Homo sapiens: one gene and its partner. The protein of the gene in region 2 interacts with the protein of the main gene of each other region in a pairwise test. Each region holds a gene or a part of one and is shown on either strand. Other genes may lie near its edges.

What was found.
Region 1: the proteins of ALPP (region 2) and CREB5 interact in binary tests that used the Homo sapiens proteins (3 or more experiments, as listed by UniProt).

What each region holds. Positions count from the first base shown.
Region 1 is NC_000007.14:28,803,866-28,807,517, reverse strand, and holds part of CREB5 (cyclic AMP-responsive element-binding protein 5), read right to left. Parts: intron 3,320-3,652; coding exon 2,996-3,319; intron 1-2,995. UniProt on the Homo sapiens protein: Binds to the cAMP response element and activates transcription.
Region 2 is NC_000002.12:232,377,226-232,380,977, forward strand, and holds the start of ALPP (alkaline phosphatase, placental type preproprotein), read left to right. Parts: upstream 1-1,525; 5' UTR 1,526-1,577; coding exon 1,578-1,653; intron 1,654-1,719; exon of another isoform or gene 1,720-1,745; coding exon 1,746-1,862; intron 1,863-1,974; coding exon 1,975-2,090; intron 2,091-2,287; coding exon 2,288-2,462; intron 2,463-2,538; coding exon 2,539-2,711; intron 2,712-2,960; coding exon 2,961-3,095; intron 3,096-3,194; coding exon 3,195-3,267; intron 3,268-3,397; coding exon 3,398-3,532; intron 3,533-3,614; coding exon 3,615-3,752. UniProt on the Homo sapiens protein: Alkaline phosphatase that can hydrolyze various phosphate compounds.

The sequences.
Region 1 (3,652 bases), on a different chromosome or scaffold from region 2:
GGCCCAGGGTTGAGGTTGAACTGCATCTTAGTAATTTTATGCAAAGCAAAGACATTTTCTTTTTTTCTTGAGACGGAGTCTCTCTCTGTCGCCCAGCCTGGAGTGCAGTGGCGCGATTTCGGTTCACTGCAACCTTTGCTGCCCAGGTTCAAGCGATTCTCCTGCCTCAGCCTCCCAAGTAGCTGGGATTACAGGTGCCTGCCACCATGCCTGGCTAATTTTTGTAGTTTTTTAGTAGACACAGGGTTTCACCATCTTGGCCAGGCAGGTCTTGAACTCCTGACCTCGTGATCCACCCGCCTCAGCCTCCCAAAGTGCTGAGATTACAGGCGTGAGCCACCGCACCAGGCCAGCAAAGACATTTTCTAGAACTGTTTGTTTGTTGGTGACTCTTTTCCTCCCGATTATAGAGGAATAACAAAATAAATTAACTGTCTAAGGTCTTACTCATCAGAGTTGCTAGTGAAGGCGTCATCCTTGTTATTGGCAGGGGCTTAGCACTTGTCATTCCAGATGCTAATTCCTGAGCTAACTACTGCAAAGAAAAGCATTAAGAGGGAATGTGCTAACTGCTCGGATATTTTTGCCTTTAACTGTTTCCTTTTGTGAATTATAATCTCTTATTGCCAGCCCCAGACAAAACCCTCAAATAGGAAAAAATTGATTTTTAATCTCCATTGCAGGGACTTATCTTTCAATTCTGTATCCTCCTACCCTAAGTTTAATCAACCTGTAACCCATGATACTTTTCCTGTGCCTTCACCCAAAGGCATAAGTGACGTGGTTTCAGGTGTAATTAGGTTCAGGATTGATTAAGAGAAATTCCTTGAAACCAGCACTCTACAATCACATCCTTACATGCAGGAGGAGCACAAGAAGCCAGGAGAAAATGCAAATACAACCCTAAAACCAGAATTTGTATACCTGGTAATTATTGTCGCTTGTAATTTTATTTTTAAAGCAGAATTCTCTTGGCATAGATGCTCTGAAAATTTTGATCAAAAGTAATAAATTATAATTTCAAAAAGGCAGATTTTATTCCAAATCACCTTAGAATCTCAGAGTTCAAAGGATTCTATTCCTACTTTCAGATAATCATACAATTAAGCAAAATGGCAAGATCTCAGTAATCAGCCAAGTTAATACAATTTAAGAGTGGTATTTTGGGATACTGCCTAAATGATCTGGTTCAAATTTTAGCAAGACCAACCTGGGCTCTTTCTTTTTAGCATACAATTAAAAAAAGCAACTGTTCATAAAGCTAATTATAATAGCAATTAACTAATTGCATATACTATTGGCCACTTACTGACTTGAAACAGAGGGCAATTGGCTAATTGGTAATTAGCTAGTGAATGGCTTTTATATTCAAAGAATTGTTATATAACTTGCTCTGTGAAATAACTTGCCCATAAAGGCAACCAAACCTTGATGTTCTCGTTTCCTTATAAACTAAGTACAAATGTGAATCAATTTGCCCATCATTGACTTTGTAGTTTTTTTTTTTCTTTCTAAATACATGTTCTAGTATGGCGTTTGACTAAAAATGTGACTAAAAATGTTCTCTGGATAGCATTTGATTGCTATACAATTTGCTAAACTTCTACTGGTTTGGAATAACATATTTTGAACACTGTGTCAAGGGCTTTACAGAGATTCTCTTATTTAATACTCATAAGAGCCTAGGAGTTTAGTCTACTATTACCCAGCCCCATTTTACAGATGGGAAAACTGAGGGGTAGAGAGGTTGTTTCTGTTCACAATCACACAGTGAGGAAGGCAGGAAAAAAATTAAGGTTATCTCATTCTAATGCTCAATTCTTATTCACAATGTAGAACACCTCTAAGAACCTTGCAAAAGACAGTTTATCTAATGAATAGCTTCGAGAGTTGCTTGTGCCTGACCCATTCTGTGGATGGCTGTCCAGGTTTGGTGCATGTTAATGGAGGGGGGCTCAAGAGTTCAAAAAGCTGCCGGGTATAAAGTCACGTCTCCAGAGGCAGATGACAGAGGAGACAGTGAATAAGTGTTTTTTGGCGGTTCCATGCTTCCGACACCCTTCTGATTCAGCTGGTTGGAAGCTGGCAGTGTGGACTGGGTGGAAGGTATGGATGAAAGTCATTCTGCTTGAGGATCCAAAGTGTCTAGGCCCAGCCATGCTCCTGGACATGCCCTTCATCCACTTACTAAAACTCACTCCAGTACAGGACTCGCCTCTCTTCTTGGCCGTGGGTGACATAATGTCTGCCTGGTCCCCCAACCCTCTTTCAGTTTTGTCTAAATGCTGGCTTTCTTTGCAGCCACTCCTGGTGACTCTCACCCACTGGGATTTGGCCTTTCTCTTGGTCTGATCATCTACAGAACTTGGCTCTCTTTCTGTTCCCTCCAACGCATTTCTCATTCAGGGGGATGAGTCACCTCTCTTCACCATTTACACAGCACCTTACGCCCTAGCATCCATGATGGAGCTTCTTTGTCTGCCTTGAATTGTTACTCTTTAGATTTTTAACATTCACTGTTACTCAGAAGATTGCCTGTTGTATTTAACTTCCATTTTACAGGTGACAAAATTGAGTCTCTATGATGTTTTAAAACATAGCAGCTAGAACCAGGGTTAGAATTAACTCGTTTTTCTCATTCTTAATTCACATCTTTCTTCACAAGCTTAAGTTCTTCCTAATCCATTGATTCATATTACTTTTGAGAGGGGCTAACTTTCTGACACACTGCAAAAATAGATTTTGGAGAACTTAAAGTTTATGCTTGCCCTTAGAGACTAGACCTGATATTTTTTAGTGTATTATTTATAGAAATTATGATCTGGTAGGGTCTTATGGGTAAGGCTTGCCTCCTAGGAGATAAACAGAGCCCCTAGAATGTGAGATAGAACACCTGGGCTTGTCAAACAAGATTGCTGCAAATGACCCCAGCATTAGAGCTTGCACTGTTAAGAAGGAGAATAAGAAGGGGAAAGAGATCACGGAAAAGGTCTACCTGTGCTTGGTTGCCGGTGTGCAGGGGCGGATGTGGCGAGGTCTGGTGATGTGCTGGGTGTGCATGAAGGTGGGAATGGGAGTGGTGATGTGGATGGTTCTGCTGGTGATGGGGTTGAGGGTGAGGATGGTGTGCTGGGTGCTGGTGCTGGTGTGGGTAAGGGTGATGGGGTGGCAGTGTCTGGTGCTGATGCGGGTGCGAGTGCATGTGATGGTGTGGCGTCTGGTCCTGCCGGGAGCCCATCATCTCCATCATGTGTCCCATGGTGTTCATGTTCCCATTTGACATGGCAGCAGGGTGGTGAGTCAATGCAGCCTTCAACCTCTGAAACAGAACAAAAGGGAGGAGAGAGAACAACTGAAGTCAGTCATGTACATGATAGAGATTTAAAAGCAAAATGACTCACATTTTCAATTCTATATTTTACGATGCTATTGTTAATGTTTCCTACCAGTAGCTATCTTGCTACCAGTACAAGATAGCTTTTATATTAATTTCATATTTTCTTATATATCGTGGTCAGTAGGAGGGTCAATGTCAGCCAAATAGGTTAATTCAACTGTCAAAGCCAATGGGCAGGATATCCTATCAAGAATCATACATTCTACTAAAAGGTATTTCCTATTATCCAATCATGCATTATATCGTATCTACAAC
Region 2 (3,752 bases):
AGGCAGTGAGCCATGATCATGCCACCGCAGTCCAGCCTGGTGACAAATGAGACCCTGCCTCAAAAAAAAAAAAAAAAAAAAAAGAGGAAGGTGAGCGCAGTGGCTCATGTCTGTAAATCCAGACACTTTGGGAGGCTGAGGTGGAGGTTCGAGACCAGCCTGGGCAACATAGCAAAACCATGTCTTTACACAAAATAAAAAATGAGTCAGGTGTGGTGGCACATGCCATTGGTGCCAGCTACGTGAGAGGCTGAGGTGGGAAGATTGCTTGAGCCTGGGAGGTCCGAAGCTGCAGGGAGCCGTAACTCAGGCATCACACTCCAACCTGGCTGACAGAATGGGACCCTGTCTCCAAAACCAAAAGATTCCAGCTCGAAAAATAATTGTGGGGTGGCGGCAAAAGCTCCTGACTGGCCTTGACTTTAGAGTGAATCAATGAATTAATTAAGGGCCTGCCTGTTAGTGAGTCTCCTCTGAAATTTAGCCCAGAAATTTCCTAACTCAGCAAGATGAAGCAGGAGGTAGAAGGAACTAAGGGGGCAATAAGCAGGAGGAAGGAATGTCCCCATGAGGGTGACATCTTCCCTGAGAGCCCCAGGACGACCAGCAGGAAGCCAGGCGGGGGGCAGGCAGGAGGACTCCAGAAAGCTCGGCCTGAGGGGAGGCCCGTGGGGGTGGTGGGGAGTGGTGCGGGGAAGGCAGAGGCTGAGCAGCAGGTGAGGTCCCCTGGGTTTTGGGGGCCAAGCCTGGGGCTCGGGGCGAGCAAGCATGAGTGGAGAAGGGGCTGCTGTGGTTGGGCTGGGGTGGACTCCCCACCTGCGTCGTCCAAACATTAGTGTGAGTGCACCCACACAAACACATACACAATCACACACAACATGTGAGCAATGGGCAGGACTGGTCCGGCCCCACTCAGTGCTGTCACCATTGGCCCCACAGCTGCCCACAGCCCTAGAGCTCTGGGCCCAGATTCCTGCCAGCCCCACCTGTCCAGGCCAAGGTAAGATGATGGAGCAAGGGGGTGCCAGGGCAGCAAAGCCCCCCACGTGCCCCTTTCCCACAGGGCCCAGGCTCCTGGCATCAGGAGGCTGAACCCAGGCCCTGGCCCAGACTGTGTGCTTCCAGCCTCCCCTCCTCTCGACACCAGAACACAGCCTGGCCCCAGCTTCTGGGAAATATAGAAAAAAATGGGTGAATGATCCAGTGACAGGGTGTCTTGTTCCACACAAGACACAGTGAGCAGGGGTTGGGGGAGGGGCTCCTGGCTGCGGGAGGCACACCACACTCACCCAAATGGCATCTGTACTCAATACCGCACCCTTCCCTGGGGGACACCTGGTCCCAACCTGAGCTGCCTTTCTCAGGACCCCAGCCCCAGCCCGGCCCAGCCCAGCCACACCCTGCCACTCCCTTCAGCCAGTGTGGCTTCAGGTCAAGAGGCTGGGCAGGGTCAAGGTGGCAACGAGGGGAGAAGCCGGGACACAGTTCTCCCTGATTTAAACCCGGGCAGCCTGGAGTGCAGCTCATACTCCATGCCCAGAATTCCTGCCTCGCCACTGTCCTGCTGCCCTCCAGACATGCTGGGGCCCTGCATGCTGCTGCTGCTGCTGCTGCTGGGCCTGAGGCTACAGCTCTCCCTGGGCATCATCCCAGGTAATGAGGCTCCCCGAGCTGCCCCTACACAACACACACACAGGGCACCCCCCAGCCCAGGCTGACCTGATTTTTGCTCTCCCCCTGGCCAGTTGAGGAGGAGAACCCGGACTTCTGGAACCGCGAGGCAGCCGAGGCCCTGGGTGCCGCCAAGAAGCTGCAGCCTGCACAGACAGCCGCCAAGAACCTCATCATCTTCCTGGGCGATGGTGAGTGAGCCAGGCCTTCCAGCCCTGCAGCCCTCACAGCCCCGGCGCCCGGACCCTCAGTGGTTCCAGGAGAGCCCTGGGGCCCAAGCCTCACACATTTCTGTTCCTTCAGGGATGGGGGTGTCTACGGTGACAGCTGCCAGGATCCTAAAAGGGCAGAAGAAGGACAAACTGGGGCCTGAGATACCCCTGGCCATGGACCGCTTCCCATATGTGGCTCTGTCCAAGGTAAGTGCTGGGCTACCTTAGAGTCCTCCAAGCACAGAAGGGGAATCCTGGCTATGGAGTGTGGTAGGAGGGAGGGACCCTAAACAGCTGGGGCTCCAGTAAGGAGTTAGAGGCAGTTGGAATCCCAGAGGACAGAGATCAGGGTCTGGGTCTCCGTGTCTGCCCCAGAGAAGAGCTCAGAGTGTCTCTGTCCCCAGACATACAATGTAGACAAACATGTGCCAGACAGTGGAGCCACAGCCACGGCCTACCTGTGCGGGGTCAAGGGCAACTTCCAGACCATTGGCTTGAGTGCAGCCGCCCGCTTTAACCAGTGCAACACGACACGCGGCAACGAGGTCATCTCCGTGATGAATCGGGCCAAGAAAGCAGGTGAGCTGGGGCCCGCTGCTGGGTCACGGCCAGGTCACAGACGTTGGTCACATATACTGACCTCTGACACCCTTAGGGAAGTCAGTGGGAGTGGTAACCACCACACGAGTGCAGCACGCCTCGCCAGCCGGCACCTACGCCCACACGGTGAACCGCAACTGGTACTCGGACGCCGACGTGCCTGCCTCCGCCCGCCAGGAGGGGTGCCAGGACATCGCTACGCAGCTCATCTCCAACATGGACATTGACGTGCGACCCCCAGGCCAAGGGCTGGGGCTGGGCAGAGAGTAGCAGGGAGGGGGCACTAGCTCAGACCCAGGCAACCAAAAGCCTTATCTGGGCCAGCAGGGTCTGGAGGTGGGGTTGTGGGCGTAGAAGGTGCAGCCCAGGCTGGGCCATTCCCACAGCCTTGGGGAGGGGAGTCAGGGGCTGTGCATGAGGAGGGGGCACGGGGCCAGCCAGGGCCCCAAATCCACCTGCCCCATCCTCTGTTCCCAGGTGATCCTAGGTGGAGGCCGAAAGTACATGTTTCGCATGGGAACCCCAGACCCTGAGTACCCAGATGACTACAGCCAAGGTGGGACCAGGCTGGACGGGAAGAATCTGGTGCAGGAATGGCTGGCGAAGCGCCAGGTGATGGGGGCTGGCGGGTGCAGGGGGCACAGCAGGGGGAGGGCAGAGGTGTGGGGCTCAGGGCTGTGGGCTGAGGCCTGGCTCTCTCCCTCCCCACAGGGTGCCCGGTATGTGTGGAACCGCACTGAGCTCATGCAGGCTTCCCTGGACCCGTCTGTGACCCATCTCATGGGTAATGACCCCCTTCCTGCCCTGGCATCCCTCAGATGGCCTCAGATGGCACCTTCTGAGCCTGTGTGCACATCCGCCAGCACCCGCCCACCCCCAGCCTGCCAGTCACCACAGGACCCCTTGTCCCACAGGTCTCTTTGAGCCTGGAGACATGAAATACGAGATCCACCGAGACTCCACACTGGACCCCTCCCTGATGGAGATGACAGAGGCTGCCCTGCGCCTGCTGAGCAGGAACCCCCGCGGCTTCTTCCTCTTCGTGGAGGGTGCGTGGTGGCCCCTGGGGAGTGGGGGTTGGGGGTTGGAGCAGGGCAGGCTCAGCATCTCCCCCCTCTGGCCTTCCTGCAGGTGGTCGCATCGACCATGGTCATCATGAAAGCAGGGCTTACCGGGCACTGACTGAGACGATCATGTTCGACGACGCCATTGAGAGGGCGGGCCAGCTCACCAGCGAGGAGGACACGCTGAGCCTCGTCACTGCCGACC